Homo sapiens: one gene and its partner. The protein of the gene in region 1 purifies or fractionates together with the protein of each later gene. This does not show direct contact. Each region holds a gene or a part of one and is shown in the gene's direction. Other genes may lie near its edges.

Region 1 (7,942 bases):
GGTGCTGGTGCCCCTCTTGTTAGCACATTCCTTATCACCTTGATAAATGGTGTATCCTGGGTTTTTCTGTTTGAGTTTTCCAGGCTTGTTTGATCTATCCACTACAGTAGGCTCACTTCTGAATCTTTTAATCCTTTCTTCTACTATTGTCACAGCAATGCTGGCATTTCAACCTCACTTAGCATGGGTCATCACTTTTTCTGTACTTCAAGGAGTCATCTAATTGTGAGACTATTCTACCTCATGTGGTCCTTGCCAGAGTGTTAAATCCTATATTCCAGAGTAGTGCTCCAAAATTGATAAACTGCCTGTTATCCCACCTTATAGACTAGCTCTCTTGATCAAGCAGTCTCAGAATTCAATTCCATGTGAACCCTTCCAGTTCCTGCCAATCCACGCTGGGTATCTTGCAGCTTTTTGACGTATAATCGCTCTTCTCCCTGATCAGGCCTCACATGTCCATGCTGTGCCTTAGCCCTTGTTATAGGCCTAATGGCAAGGAGGGGAGGGGAAAGCACATGTTGTCTTGTTGGGGAGAAGCTTTGCATGTCTGCAAGCAAGAGGATGGGGCGGGCGTGGGTACTACCAATAGGGAAATTGCACCAGTTCTATGGGCTCAGCTGGTTCAGGGAAATCTAAGGATTCAAGATTTTGGTAGCATCAATCTAGATAGCCCCAAACCATGTGTCAGGGTCTCATTCTTTCCCGGGCAGCATCCCGATTTTGACATAGCAAATGTGTGTCTATTTCTCCATTGGGAATTTACTCCTTTTTAGACCTCAATAACCACTAAATTCCATTGGTTCTTTTTGTTGTTGTTTTGTTTTGTTTCAGAGTCAGGGGCTCGCTCTGTTGCCCAGGCTGGAGTACAGTGGCATGATCATAACTCACTGCAGCCTTGAACTCCTGGGCTCAAGTGATCCTCCTACCTTGGCCTTCCATTGGTTTTATAGCTACTACTTCCTCCATATTTCTCAAACACTTGAAACATCACAGAAGATTATACGTTCCCTTTTACCATCCCAATTCACACCTGGTGGAAGTTTTAACAATAATAGGACTGCTGCCTTGTGGCAGGGGGCTATCTGTGCTCCATCCACTCTGTGGTATGGTCCTCATTGCCAACTGGGCAGTAAGTGATTTAGCTCCCAAATATCATCCAAATGCTCTGGTTTCTCTTCGGATCGTATAAATCTTTTGCCTTTTACCAAATATCATCATAGTCCCGACTTTCTTGGATCACTCCCAATTTCAAGTGTTACAGTTTGAGTTCCCCAGGAGGCAGATTCCAAGGAAGAGCTTTGTGTGCAGGGTGCTTATTAAGAGGTATTCTTAGATTAGGATCTGTGCAATGAAGTAGGTGTGGGCAGAGGGGAACACTGAGCTACAATGCAGGCTCAATAGCAGAGAGCCAACCCCACAGAGAGAATTGGAGTTAGAATGACCCTTCCCAATTGTCCCAAATTGGGTTGAGACAGTCAGGTCTTTATACCCCCTCTTTGGTCAGTTACTGTAGGCTGTCCCAGAAAAGTCTGTGACCTTGGGTAAGGCAGAGATTACCTGAAGCAATCCCTGAAGGGCTAACAGCTGAAGGCAGTCTGTCAACATTTCTCCCAGCAGCTCAGCCAACAAGTCTTTTATTGAAATGAGAGGTGGGCTGACGCATCACAGTATCCATCACAGGCATCATCTCTTTACATTAAAAATTGCCAATTAAAAGTAAAGAGTTAAGCATTTATCATGTCCTTCCTATATAAATTGTATTTCAGATTAGCCAAATAGCCATGGTTGATGAAGGTAAGTTCTATACAGAATGATCCAGTTAATAAATTAGAAGAAATTATGAGATTGACTATCATAATTTTGCAGTCCTAATAACATATTTTTTTCAGACAATGAAACCATGAAGTAAAAGGATGGTGGAGAAATTTATAGTGGAAGCTTCAGGCTGCCTCTCCCTGAAGTCACCAATGAATCTGAACATGTCTAAGTGTTGCACAGTATGTATTCCCTGATGTGATGCAATGGGAACTATACAGCACCATCTATGAGCATTCCTATTTAGAAAACATTGTACTAGACTCTAAGACTCTAGAGACAATTTATGGTTTATAGTTAAGTTACACTTTTTCCTGTAACAAGAGGAGCAAGTTAAGTAACATGAAGAAGCAAACAGACAAATGAAAATGTAGGGCATTCAACAGTCCAACTGTCTTGGTTTCTTCAACAACTCAAGGGGTTGGGCATGATGGCTCACACGTGTAATCCCAGCACTTTGGGAGGCCGAGGTGGGAGGATCACTTGAGCCCAGGAGTCCAAGAGCAGCCTGGGCAACATGGGGAGAACCCATCTCTACAAAAAAAAAAAAAAAAAAAATCAATAACATGAATAAAAAAAAAAGAGAGGGGAGACTTTTAGATTGAAATGGATTTAAGACACATAACCACGTGCAATGTGTGCACTTGGAGTCTAGATTTAAACAAACCAACTGTAAGCAGACATTTCCGAGACAATTGGGGGAAATCTGAATATGGACTGGGCCAAGCAAAGTGGCTTGCGCCTGTAATCCCAGCACTTTGGGAGGCCAAATCAGGTAGATTGCATGAGCCCAGGAGCTTGAGACCAGCCTGGGCAACGTGGCAAAACCTCGTCTCTAGAAAATATAAAAAGTAAAAAAATGACCTGGGTGTGATGGCATGTGCCTGTAGCCCCAGCTACTCAGGAAGCTGAGTTGGGAGGATTGCTTGGTCCCAGGAGGTCAAGGCTGCAGTGAGCCAAGATCGTACCACTGCACTAAAGCCTGGGTGACACAGCAAGGCCCTGTCTCAAAAAAAAAAAAAAAAAAAAAAAAGTCTGGGTATTAGAAGACAACAAAGAATTAGTATAAATTTTGTTTGGTATAAAAGTGGCATGGTGGTTATGTTTGTTAGAAAATGTCCATGTTTCTAAAGAACACTGAAGTATGTAAAATAAAATGGCATGATGTTTGAGATTTGCCCTGAAATGCTCACAGCTTACAGAAATGGAAAAAAAAAAAAAAGAAAAGAAAAAGAAAAAGAAGAAAAGGGATATAGAAAACAAGTGCCTTAGTCAGATCTGGCTGCTGTTAACAAAGTACCATAGACTAGGTTGCGTATTAACAGCAGATGATCAGGTTCTGGTACGGTCTCTCTTCTGGGTTGCAGAATTCAGACCCTTTCTTGAGTCCTCATGGAAGAAAGAGGATGAGAGAGCTTTCTGGGGTCCTTTTTATGAGGCACTAATCCCATCATGAGGGTTCCACCCTTATGACCTAATTACTTGGCAAAGGCCCCAACTCCTAATCCCAATACCTAATACCATCATATTGGGAGTTAGGATTTCAACATACAAATTTTGGCGGGGCACAAATGTTCAGTCCATTGCAGCAGGTGTGGCAGTCTTGATAATTACTGCATCTGAGTAATAAGTACATGGGATTCATTATATTGTTTTCTGTACTTTTGTGTATTTTAAAAAATTGAAGAAAAGATAACTAAAAAACAGACAAATGTAAAGCACCCAATGGGGGTAAAAAATGATGCTCAAAGGACATAAACAGGCATTTGTAGAAGAGGAGATGCAAATGTATACTAAACATTTGAAAAGATATTCAGCCTTACTGGTAGTCAGGAAAATGCAAATTAAAACAATAAGGAGATACTATTTTTTATTGAAAAGACTATCAAAAAGTTAAAAGATTGGGACCATCTAGTGCTATGAACATGACAAAAGAGCACTGATTGTTGCTGGGAGGGCAAATTGCCTATCTTACAGTATTTATTAAGATTAAACCATGCACATGCTATTAGATGCAGCAGTCTCATCTTTTGGAATTCATTCTGTGGAGATAACAGTATCAGAAATTAATGACCTGTACACGAGTGTGTGAAGGAGCATTTTTTGTATTGTCAAAATTAAAAAAAGAGGACAACCTAAATTACCATAAAGGAATGGTCAAATAAATTATAGTTCATTCATGCCATAGAACATTACATATGTTTTTAATGAATCTGTTTTTCTATTATCAGTGTATATTTATAGTATATTAGAAAACACAGGTAAGAAAAAAGGAAAAAGTGTCTAGTTCCAGACCCAGAGATATCATCTTGGTGTATATCAAGTGGTTTTCGTTGTGTGTGTGTGTGTGTATATATATATGTATGTATGTATGTGTATATGTGTGTATGCATGCATATATATATATGTATATATGTATACATATATATTTGTTTTTCCAATAGAAAAGGCATCATGCGTTCCACAATATGTTGTAACTCCTTGTTTTCTTCATTCCTTCATGAATATTTTTCTACATCAACACATACTTATCTACAAACATGGCCTTCAAGAACTGGATGGTATTTCATTTTATGCATACTTCATAACTCGACCAATCCCCTACTTGGCGGTATTTAAGTGAATCCAATTTCTCCTTTTAGAAACACCGTCCCTGCATGCTAGCAAGACTTTGGAGATAGTTTGCTAATTGCCTTCCAGAAAGTTCTGGGTGCTTCTGGAGGCATTTGAGGCAGAGTAGGTAGAATGTTTTCCCATCAGGCGAGCTTGCTATCTTCCCAGATAGCAACACTGTAGTCTTTAGAACTTGAAAGACTTGTCTTATCTTGCCTGTTAGTCATGCAGCCTAAGCGGGACTAGGTTCCAGAAATCCCATACATGCTCTCCCTCCTCTTGCTTCATTCACGCCCCTCCCCACGCGCCACCCCCGCCCCCCGCGCTTTCCCGCTCGGCGGCCTGGCCTATGGCATACGCCAATAATTAATTAGGGGCGGGGATCAAGGAGCGGCTGTCAGGAGGTCGCCATATTTCTGTACGGCCCAGAGGCAGCCCGGGCAGTCGCCGGGTCGGTAGAGGTGCTGACAGGGCGGAGCCGCCGCTTGCCTCAGCCGGCCTCACCCCTCCCGCCCGGGACAGGTGGCTGGAGCGCGCTCCGCCTCCGCCAGCTGCGAGTGGGAGCGAGGGAGGGCCGGTCCCGGACGGTCGCCGCCAGCTGCGAGTGGAAGTGAGCGAGGGCTAGTCCCGGACCGCCGGGCCAGGGGTCCGGCGGCAGCAGACGGGTACCGTGGCGGCCAAAAAAATGCTCCTGTACCGAGGGGCCCCCGCCGGCCCTGGCGCGCCGGGCTGCGGGCTGGCCCGGCCCGGCGGCGGCCCGCAGGCCTTCGGGATCCGCCTGAGCACGGTAGGTCCGGGGCCCGAGGGGGCGGACGCGCGCGCGGGCCCCTGGGCTGCGGGGGGCGCGCGGGGAGGGCCCGGCGGGCCGAGGCCTCACGCGGGTCGGGACCTTCTCTCGCCCCCAGATGAGCCCCCGCTACCTCCAGAGCAACTCCAGCAGCCACACGCGACCCTTCAGTGCCATCGCGGAGCTGCTAGGTGAGTGGCGAGGGCGGGCCCGGCCGTGTTCGCCCGAGGCAGTGGTGCCAGCGTGGTGCCGCGGACGCGAGAGGAATGCGCAGAGCCGCGCGGGGCGGGCCGGGGCTGGGGTGGGGGCCTCGGAACCGGCCCCGGCTCCGCAGGCGGAGGAGGGGGATGGCTCTCTCGCCAGGAACTAGGTTCCGCTCATAAAACGGAGGAAACGAGGTGTGTCTGAAGCGTTAAAGACACCAGTGTGGTTTTTCTCTCGCGCTCGTGACGTTCGGGCACTTTAGGATAGCTTAGTTAGTAATCAAAAGGAGATGCATAAAAACCTCGGGCCCTGAGGCAGCTGGGTCCGCAGGGGCTGGCGACCGACGGAGGATGCCTAGCTAGCAAAGGGGCGTAGAGGACCGAGGCGGGTCCTGGGGAAAGGTCTGGAAAGCGGAGTTCCTTAACTTTTGAGACAAGAAAAGTTAGGAATGATGGGACATCTCTTAAGAGATGACACGAGTGCATTTGGCTCCCTGCTACTGCGGAGGGCTGGGTCCGTGGTCCACGAGCGCCCTCACACCGCTGGAATGAATATTGAGGACTTAACCTCTCGCTCCACCGGTGTTTGCTTTTAAAGTGTTTTCAGTTGATCCCTTCAAGCCAATTACACCAGTTTTTGCAGTAGTGTGCTACTGTGTGGAAAGCAAAGAAGAAACGCAGTCCTGCACAAAACGCAGCAGCATACAGGGCGCATTATACATGCTTTGAAAATCGAAAGAAGGAAGAAGTGTTTATGGGCAAGGTTGCACAGAACAAACTCTTGAAAATGTTTTCAAAGCTCCCCAAATGAACCCCGGTCTCTACTTAAGCAGTCGCTGTGGCCATGCCATGAGAGTTATCTTGGGTAAGAAGTCAATGGGTAGCAGGGGACTTACTTGGAAGGGTGATAAGAATGATAGAGACCTTTGATGATTAACCATAACACGGAATGCTTTACAATATGTGTAATTTAATTAGAAGGTGAAAGGCAAAAAGTGGAATTGATACGTTTGGAACCCTAGAGCAGAGGGACTGTATCTTTGAGGTTTGGTACTGTGCCTTGGGGCTGTGCACTGAACCTCTGCAGAATGGAATACAATCCAAGTTAAGTATGTAATTTACAAGAAAGACTACAAGGGAGCAAAAAGTAGTGATTTACATAGTGGGGGATGGGAAAGCGAAATGTATTGTTCTCTCATGGTTGGCACGGTGCAGAACGTGATATACCTGTGCTGTGCTTACTGTACTTTCCAGGTGATTTAATGAGTTTCCAATTTGTAATTTTGGATATTTGTGATTTTGGCCATAAGCATTACCTTAAAGAACCTAAGCCGGATCTAAGACGTCCAGTATGAGCGCGAGTATGTGTATGTATTATGCACACACATGCATGCATACATGTATACAAACATAGATTTTAAGACCAAATAACAACTATTTGTGAAAATATTAATAATAGGGAAAAGAGAGAGCAAAGTGTTAACTGGCAATCCAAAGCTTTCATTTTAGGTTTTCCTTCAATCATTTTCTCCACTTAAGCATTAATTTTCTAGTGAATCATTCATTTGGTAAATATTTATTGAGCACCCACTGTGCGCAAGGCCACTGTGGTAGGCACAAAAATGAATACAACACAGATTCACTCTTCTAGTAGGGGAGATAAAACATGTACAGAAGGTTTATGCTTTGTCTAACAACAAAATGGAAATCGATATATAAACAAAGATAAAAACAAGTGCTGTGGGAGTTCAGAGGAAGGAGGAATGGCTTCCAGTTTATCAGGAAGAGGAAGGTTAGGAAAGGCTTTGTGGAGGAGGTGACATTTAAGCTGAGATTTGAAGGATTGGGACATGTGGATATGGGCGGGGAGGAATTCCAGGCAAAAGGAACAACTGCTTGAACAAAGGCATGAAGAATATTGAGTGGAGTTTAATTAGAGCATGGGGTTCACAAATAGTAAAAACGATAGGTACTTAAAAAGTTTACAAGCAGCTTTCACAAATAACTTTTTAACATTACCATTTGAGGTAAACATTTATTTTCATCCTGCAGATGAAGAAAAAGAGGTTCAGAAAATTTAGTTGACTTTTCCAAGGTTACATATATACTAAGTAGCAGATCCAGGACTCAAACACAGGCCTTTTTACGCCAGATACTAAGTAAGGATGAGGTTAAAAAGGTCATCTGGGATCAGGATGTGATTGGGAGGCTCCAATATCTGGCTTTTTAGCCTGAAGTTTTCTGAGCAGGGGAATGTCATGATCAGAGCTGTGCTTCAGGAAAGTCAGTCTTGCAGCAGTGTATACAATTGAAGGAGAGAGATACGGATTTATATGACAGGAGGTTATTGCAATAATCCAGATGAGAGGAAATAAACTCTGTAAGAGACTGACAATGGAAATAGAGTAAATAGGATATGAGAACGTCTAGGGATGCATAGGGTAAAGGAGAGGGAGGGATAAGAAAATTACTTAAATTTCAAATTTGTGGTCTATTCAATGCTAACCTTGTGTGTGTTTGT
Region 2 (7,000 bases), on another chromosome or scaffold:
GGTGCTACATTGTTGATATGCAGTGAAGGTGGAGCAGGGTCTCTAAATATGAGTGAAACTGATTCTTCAACAAGTAGGTATGAATTACTGGCTGTTTTAGCCCATTCTTGCATTGCTATAAAGAAATACCTGAGACTGGTAATTTATAAAGAAAAGAAGTTTAATTGGCTCATGATTCTGCAGGCTGTACAGGAAGCATAGCACCCAAATCACTGGGCTTTGGGGATGGTCTCAGGGAGCTTTTTCAATCATGGTGGAAGGCAAAGGGGAAGCAGGCACATCATATGACAAAAGCAGGAGGGAGAGAGAGAGAGAGTGTGTGTGTGTGTTGGAGGGAGGTGCCACACTTTTATATGACCAGATTTCATGAGAACTCACTATCATGAAGATAGCACCAAGCCATAAGGGATCAGCCTCCATGATCCAAACACCTCCCACCAGGCCCCACCCCCAGCAATGGGGATTGCAATTCAACATGACATTTGGGCAGGGACAAGTATACAAACTGTACCACTGGCCTGATGAAGACACAGCCCATGGTGCCTACAAATTCTCACTACCTAGTAGGCAATTAATATTGGAAAAATTTAGATGGTTAGCGCTGGAAGGCATTCTAGAAAGCATATGGAACCACCTAGAAACTGCTCCATGACATGTAAGCCATCTCATGTGTTTCCTTCACAGGTTCCGATTCAGTGGTAGGATCCTTGGTCTTGCACTAATACACCAGTATTTGTTGGATGCCTTCTTCACACGGCCCTTTTATAAGGCTCTTCTCAGAATGTAAGAATATTTTTATTGCCTGCATAATTAGCATGTAAAATGCAGTATTTACTTTTTTGAAAAAATTCTTCTGTCAAAGTCATTGTTTATCTGTTCACAATCTCAAATTTGTTGTTATTAAACCTAATAGTGGTTTAGATTTCTGAAACTAATGCAATTTCAAATATGATTACTGTGTTTTTCCTGCCTCTGACCTATTTAGCCCCCAGATTTTTAGTTTTGCTCTACCCCCCAAAATTTATTCTCATTTGTTGCAGCATGTGTTTCTTTAAAACAATTGTACTTCAAACACAGCCCTGGGATTCCTGTGGTATTAATGCAGATTATTAATAGAATTGTTGTGGGTTAGTCTTAGTGACTCACAGCCCCCCTCTCCTTTATGAGACACATTTTATATTTGGCTTGATGCATATTTTCAAATGCTTACTCCTCGTTCAAATCTTCATTTTCCTTTGTTTTGGTTTTGTTTTTTATTTGTTTGTCAAGGGTGGACAGTGCCATATGTTTCTTAAACTTTCTCTATGCCCTTAGTAATTTATTATGGAAAATGAAAATTCAGCATTCACAGAACTTTTTCTTCATTGTTAATGAAAGATTGCAGTTATTGTAAAATGTAGGGCTAATTGTTTCTGTCCTATAATCAGCAGCCATTTACAAGGCTGAACAGAAGACAACTGTCTGTGGGATAGTAGCTCAAATTTGCGATGAGAATGCACTGAATTATCACTTGGCTCTGTCCAGCTCATACCCTAACTGAGGCCACGCACTTGCTTACTGTAAAATGGAAGCCTAGACCTCAAATGAAAGCAAACAAAATGCTTCTTGTGGGCCCTTGGGAGGGTCAGTAGAAAGACTTTTGCCTTCTTCTCTTTCAGTGTCTTCACAGCTGTAGCACTGGGGAACAGGTGCCGTTTTCTGTCTCTTTGGTTCTTTGTGGCCCACTTTGCATCTTCCCATTTCATTGCCTTATCTCTTATCTTCTCATTTAAGCTTCCTGAAAAACTAGTCTATACTGACTGTCTACACTTACCTCAAATTCACACCCTAAGCACACTTCAGCCTGGTTTCTTTCCCACCAGAAAACCTGTGGAGGCATTTAAAGAATACTGATTAGTCCGTATCTTATTGGATCATGCTGCTGCTTCTGACACTGTGCACCACCCACACCCGCCACCATTTATTCCTGTGTCTTTCCTTCAGAGCTGGCATCTATGACACTGTACTTTGCGGGTTCTTTTTTTTAACTTTTCTGTCCCTTCATGAGTCCCTCTTCTGATTTGCCCTTAAGTCTTGGTGTACCTGAAGCTTCTATCACCAGGCCCCTCGTTTTCTCACTCAGTGTGCTCTCATGGGGGAATTTCTTCTCCTGTCTTATCTCCTCTGACTCCCAAATCTGTACTCTCAGTCATGATCTCCCTTAAGGTGTAGCCTCACATGGTCAACAGTCCACCAAATATCTCCACTCGGATGTCTTACAAGGATCTCAGAATCAACATGGTTAAGACTAAGCTCATCAAGTTTCCCTACGTAAAAGTATACCTTCTCCCATATGCCCAGTTACAGTTAATAGTGCCACTATTCTCAGGCCACTCTGGTCAGAAATTGGGAGTCACCCTTAAACAGCGATGACAAATACACACGGTACATGTTCTACTCTTCCCCATCTCTACTCTACCCCATCATTCCCAGGGTAGAGTTCACAAATCACCTGTGGTACTTTTTCCCACTGAACTCACTGTGGCCTCAGAAATCTTTTTAACTTATAGTGCTCAAGCCCAGCAATTAATTACAGTTAGTTTTGACATGAGTTCGTTTGTCACCCCTGTTTTAGATATCCTTCTTTATACTCCCCCAATAAAACCATTTCCTGATTGCTACATGTTTGCCTCCTAAATGATTTTCAAATTCATCTTCTTCTCTCCAACCTTAATAGCACAGCCCTAGTTAGAGCCCTTATCTTATTTTGGCCATATTACTGTAGTGGTCTATTCATTGGTCTCTACCCTCTAATGATAACCACCCCTCATCCCACCCCATTTTAAATAATCCTTCACACTGGGACTTCCAGAGGAGCTGTTTATAATTCACATTTCACGTCTGATCATGTCATGCCCTGTCTTAAAATCTTTTGGTAGTTCTGAATCACCAATCTCCTTAGGATGATATTAAGGCCTGCTCCCTTGCTGGCCTCATTCTCTAGAAATTCTGTCTTAAGGTTAACTCTCTCAAACTGCTGATATGCTTGGAGTTTCCTGTACACATCCATGCCTTGTATTTTGTTCATGTTATTCTCTCTTTCTCCTTTCTCTTTCCCCTTCTCCTCCTTCATGTATTCCTTTTTACGTCTCTTGCTTTTAAACATCCTGAAAGATTTAATGTAGGCATCATCTTCTGCAAAAAGCTTTTCCTGAATCTCTCAGTCAAAGAAAAGGCCCCTCATGTGTGCTCTGACACCTAAATCCCTATCCCTACCTTATCTTTTCTTAAATTGAAGTGTGACATAGATTTTAAAAGTACATGAATTTTAAGTGTTACCAATCTTATGTTATCACTTATCGCTTTATATTAACTTATCTGTTTGTGTACTTGGCTCCCCAACTAGCCCATTAGCTCCTGGGGGTAGTGACTATTCATCAAGTAGCTATTCAGATGTCTGGTACATGCTTGATGCCTAATGAATGTTCAGATTGAACTGAAAAAAAATGACCCTTAAAATTGGGTTAAGGGGAGTGAAATTTCAAAACAGCTATAGCAAATCAATGACTACCACTGTACAACTGGGCCATGGAACAGTAACTTACCTCATGTCGATTCTTTCTCTACAATTAAAAAAAGTGGGGGAAAAATACAGATTGACGGCAGGTTCTGTGGCTTACTATTTTCAGAATAAGAACCATGAAGAAAAAGGGAATGTATGTGAAGATGAATCATGTCTTTAATAAAAAATAAAATAAAATAAATATTAAAATAAAAATCATGTCTTTCAATTAAAAAAAGTTAAAATATAGAAATATATAAATAATTTCAAATTAAGATAACAGTATTTTAAGGTAGTATAATATGGCCAGAAAGAATAATGGATCCAAGTTGTCAACCCGAGTGCCAGTTCCTGATCTGGCATTGATGATGGATGACTGCGCAGATGGCACTCATTCTTTGCACCTCCAGTTCTGTGTCTATAAAGGAAGACGCAGGCTGAATGATTCCTGTGGCATATTATATATTTAGGACTTTCTAATTTTATAACAAATTTCTGAATTATTTCACTGGTTTGGTTTAATTACTGGACTTGGACTAAGAACATTCCAGAAATCACTGCCTATGTAGTGGCTCTTATTCTTCTCTTTAATTCTTAGTTTCTTTCCTTATGACTCTGGGTTTTTGCTAATAGCCATGCCTACATATTTGTTTCTGTCTGTTTGTCATCTTAGTCTATGTGACCTGAGTGACCTAGAATACCTTGATGAAGAGTTCCATCAGAGCCTGCAGTGGATGAAAGACAATGATATCCATGACATCCTAGACCTCACGTTCACTGTGAACGAAGAAGTATTTGGGCAGGTGTGTGTATCTGCACACCTGGCGCCTAAGTGTGGTAACTGAAGGCTATTGATGAGTGAAGAATTAACTCCATGGCTAAGATCAGATGCTTATTTATTCGTGGTTTATTGGGTGATTTAAACTCAGGATCACACACAGTTATAATAACCGCAGTTATAAAGATTAGAATTAATGTCAGCTGCAGATTAAGATGCTGTAAATTACAGATGGTGATAACTGTTTATGTTGTAAGCAATCTTCTTTTTATTTCCAACTAAAATATCCCCCAAAATATGAGAATTTACCTTATATAGAATGCAGTTTTTTAAAGTCCACACTACAGAATTTTTTAATTGGCATTTATAGAATGGTGGCTGGGCACGGTGGCTCATGCCTGTAATCCCAGCACTTTGGGAGGCCAAGGCAGGAGGATCAGTTGAGCCTAGAAGTTCAGGACCAGCCTAGGCAACATGGTGAAACCCTATCTCTACAAAAAATACAAAAATTAGCCAGGTGTGGTGGCACATACCTGTAGTCCCAGCTACTCAGGAGGCCAAGGTGGGAGGGTCACCTGAGCTGGAGAGGTTGAGGCTGCAGTGAGCCTGGATCATGCCACTGCACTCTAGCCTGGGGGACGAGAGTGAGACCCTGTCTCAAAAAAGAAAAGAAAAATAAAGAGAACCAAAATTGATTTTTTTGAAGCTAAGGGAACATAAACAATGTTTTGGGGAAGACTTAAGAACAGAATATATTAATTTTTTTTTCAAAATTGGTGGAAGAGTAGGGAAAACGTTTCTTCCAGAAATTATATACCAGTTTATAATTAATATTCTTATTTAGGCATTAATCTTTAGCTGCTTTTCTGCATTCCATGTGTTTTGAAAAAGTTCTCAATTTAACATTCACTTGAGTGTAATTCTGCTTTAAAGTAAATCTTTACGCTAGATATAGTCAATTCTGAGAAATTTGTGAAAATGGGTTTTGTCAAACATTCAAATAGTAGCAGGCTAGTATCTGAAGCCGATTCATCGGCATTTTAAAACTTAACCTGTAGTAACAGCAATACATATATATACTTTAATCACCAAAGCTTTCAAGCACCCCCTCAATGCCTATTTTTTCCTGAGTGTGTGTGCTCCGTGAGTGCCTGGGGCCTCACTGCCAGCTTGTGGGATGTGCCTAGGGCAGGGCTGGGACAGGTAGCTGGCTGATTTCAGCTCAATGCTAGTAATGTTGTTATAACATTAAGAGTATTGCTTTGTAGTCATTCTTTTTATTTTGTAATCTCAGATAACTGAACGAGAATTAAAGCCAGGGGGTGCCAATATCCCAGTTACAGAGAAGAACAAGAAGGAGTACATCGAGAGGATGGTGAAGTGGAGGATTGAGAGGGGTGTTGTACAGCAAACAGAGAGCTTAGTGCGTGGCTTCTATGAGGTAAAGACAATCAGCAGTAGGAGGAGTTTGCAGTCTGATATCAATGATGCCACAGTCCATCTTATTGTACTTTACATGTGTAGACTATTTCTGCTGTATTTACTGTTGCTCTTTCCATGCGAAAAGTTCAGTATTTTTTCCCTTATGTTTCAAGAGCACCAAAAGAAGCTTAACTCACTGTTACGAGAGATCACTGAAATAAATGTTATGGACTGCATTCAAGTAGCATTTGTTGATTTAATGACCACTAGTAACATTTAAGCCATGCATCTTATGCTTAGATATGGGTAATCAAATCTCATGCTTGCTATGTGAAATAATTATATCTGAGATCAGAATGAGTTGGCATGTATTGTATGTGACTTTTTCTGTAGAAACACTAGATAGTTTCCTAAAGGTGGACGGGACCTAGATTAATCAGCAATCAATTATAAAACAAAAATTCTGTCAAGGCAAATCTCATCAACCTTATACTAAAGAATGCCTTATATTTGTAGGGAGCTTTACAGGTTTTCAAGTGCCAACACAAGGTACACACATATTATTCCTGAAACTCCATGTGTCCCCTTTTCTAAGGCTTAATTATAGCTGATATTTCTCCAGGCTCCTAAGCCATGCCTTGTACTCTTTTTATTCCACAGGTGGTGGATGCCAGGCTGGTATCTGTTTTTGATGCAAGAGAACTGGAATTGGTCATCGCAGGCACAGCTGAAATAGACCTAAGTGATTGGAGAAACAACACAGAATATAGAGGAGGTGAAATTTGATTTATAGATGGCTAGATTTTAAATTTCAAATTAAAGGAAGGCATGGTTCAGCTTGCCAACTGAATATAGGACAGGCAACAGCACTTGGACTCTAATCATAGGTCTGATGCAGGCTCCCTTGAGACCTTGGGCAAGGTACATTCTCTTCTTTTCCTAATTACCTCATCTGTCAGATGGGAGAAGGACTGTTTACACACCGTCAAAGGATGTCATAACTCTTAATTGTTGGTGAGGAAATGTGACCGTAAGAACACTAATTAATTACTTTATCGTGTTGTCAGTGAAGCACCAAGGAGCTAACATCCAGCTGGTCAAACTCCACCTATTCCATTTTGTTTCTAAAACTTAGAAAAGCACACCCTTTGAGCTTCCCAATCAGCACAGTTTTTCCACTGTTCACTACGCTCCTTATCAGTTGTAATTCATAGTCAGAACACTTGAATGGAATAAGACACAGTTCCCAAAATACAACA

What was found.
Region 2: the proteins of MORC4 (region 1) and HECW2 purify together in Homo sapiens (affinity purification with western blotting; 2 studies listed by BioGRID, with this or other methods). This does not show direct contact.

What each region holds. Positions count from the first base shown.
Region 1 is NC_000023.11:106,997,144-107,005,085, reverse strand, and holds the start of MORC4 (MORC family CW-type zinc finger protein 4), read left to right. Parts: upstream 1-4,873; 5' UTR 4,874-5,116; coding exon 5,117-5,218; intron 5,219-5,336; coding exon 5,337-5,409; intron 5,410-7,942. UniProt on the Homo sapiens protein: Histone methylation reader which binds to non-methylated (H3K4me0), monomethylated (H3K4me1), dimethylated (H3K4me2) and trimethylated (H3K4me3) 'Lys-4' on histone H3. The order of binding preference is H3K4me3 > H3K4me2 > H3K4me1 > H3K4me0.
Region 2 is NC_000002.12:196,219,555-196,226,554, reverse strand, and holds part of HECW2 (E3 ubiquitin-protein ligase HECW2), read left to right. Parts: intron 1-684; coding exon 685-783; intron 784-4,214; coding exon 4,215-4,344; intron 4,345-5,613; coding exon 5,614-5,760; intron 5,761-6,401; coding exon 6,402-6,516; intron 6,517-7,000. UniProt on the Homo sapiens protein: E3 ubiquitin-protein ligase that mediates ubiquitination of TP73. Acts to stabilize TP73 and enhance activation of transcription by TP73. Involved in the regulation of mitotic metaphase/anaphase transition.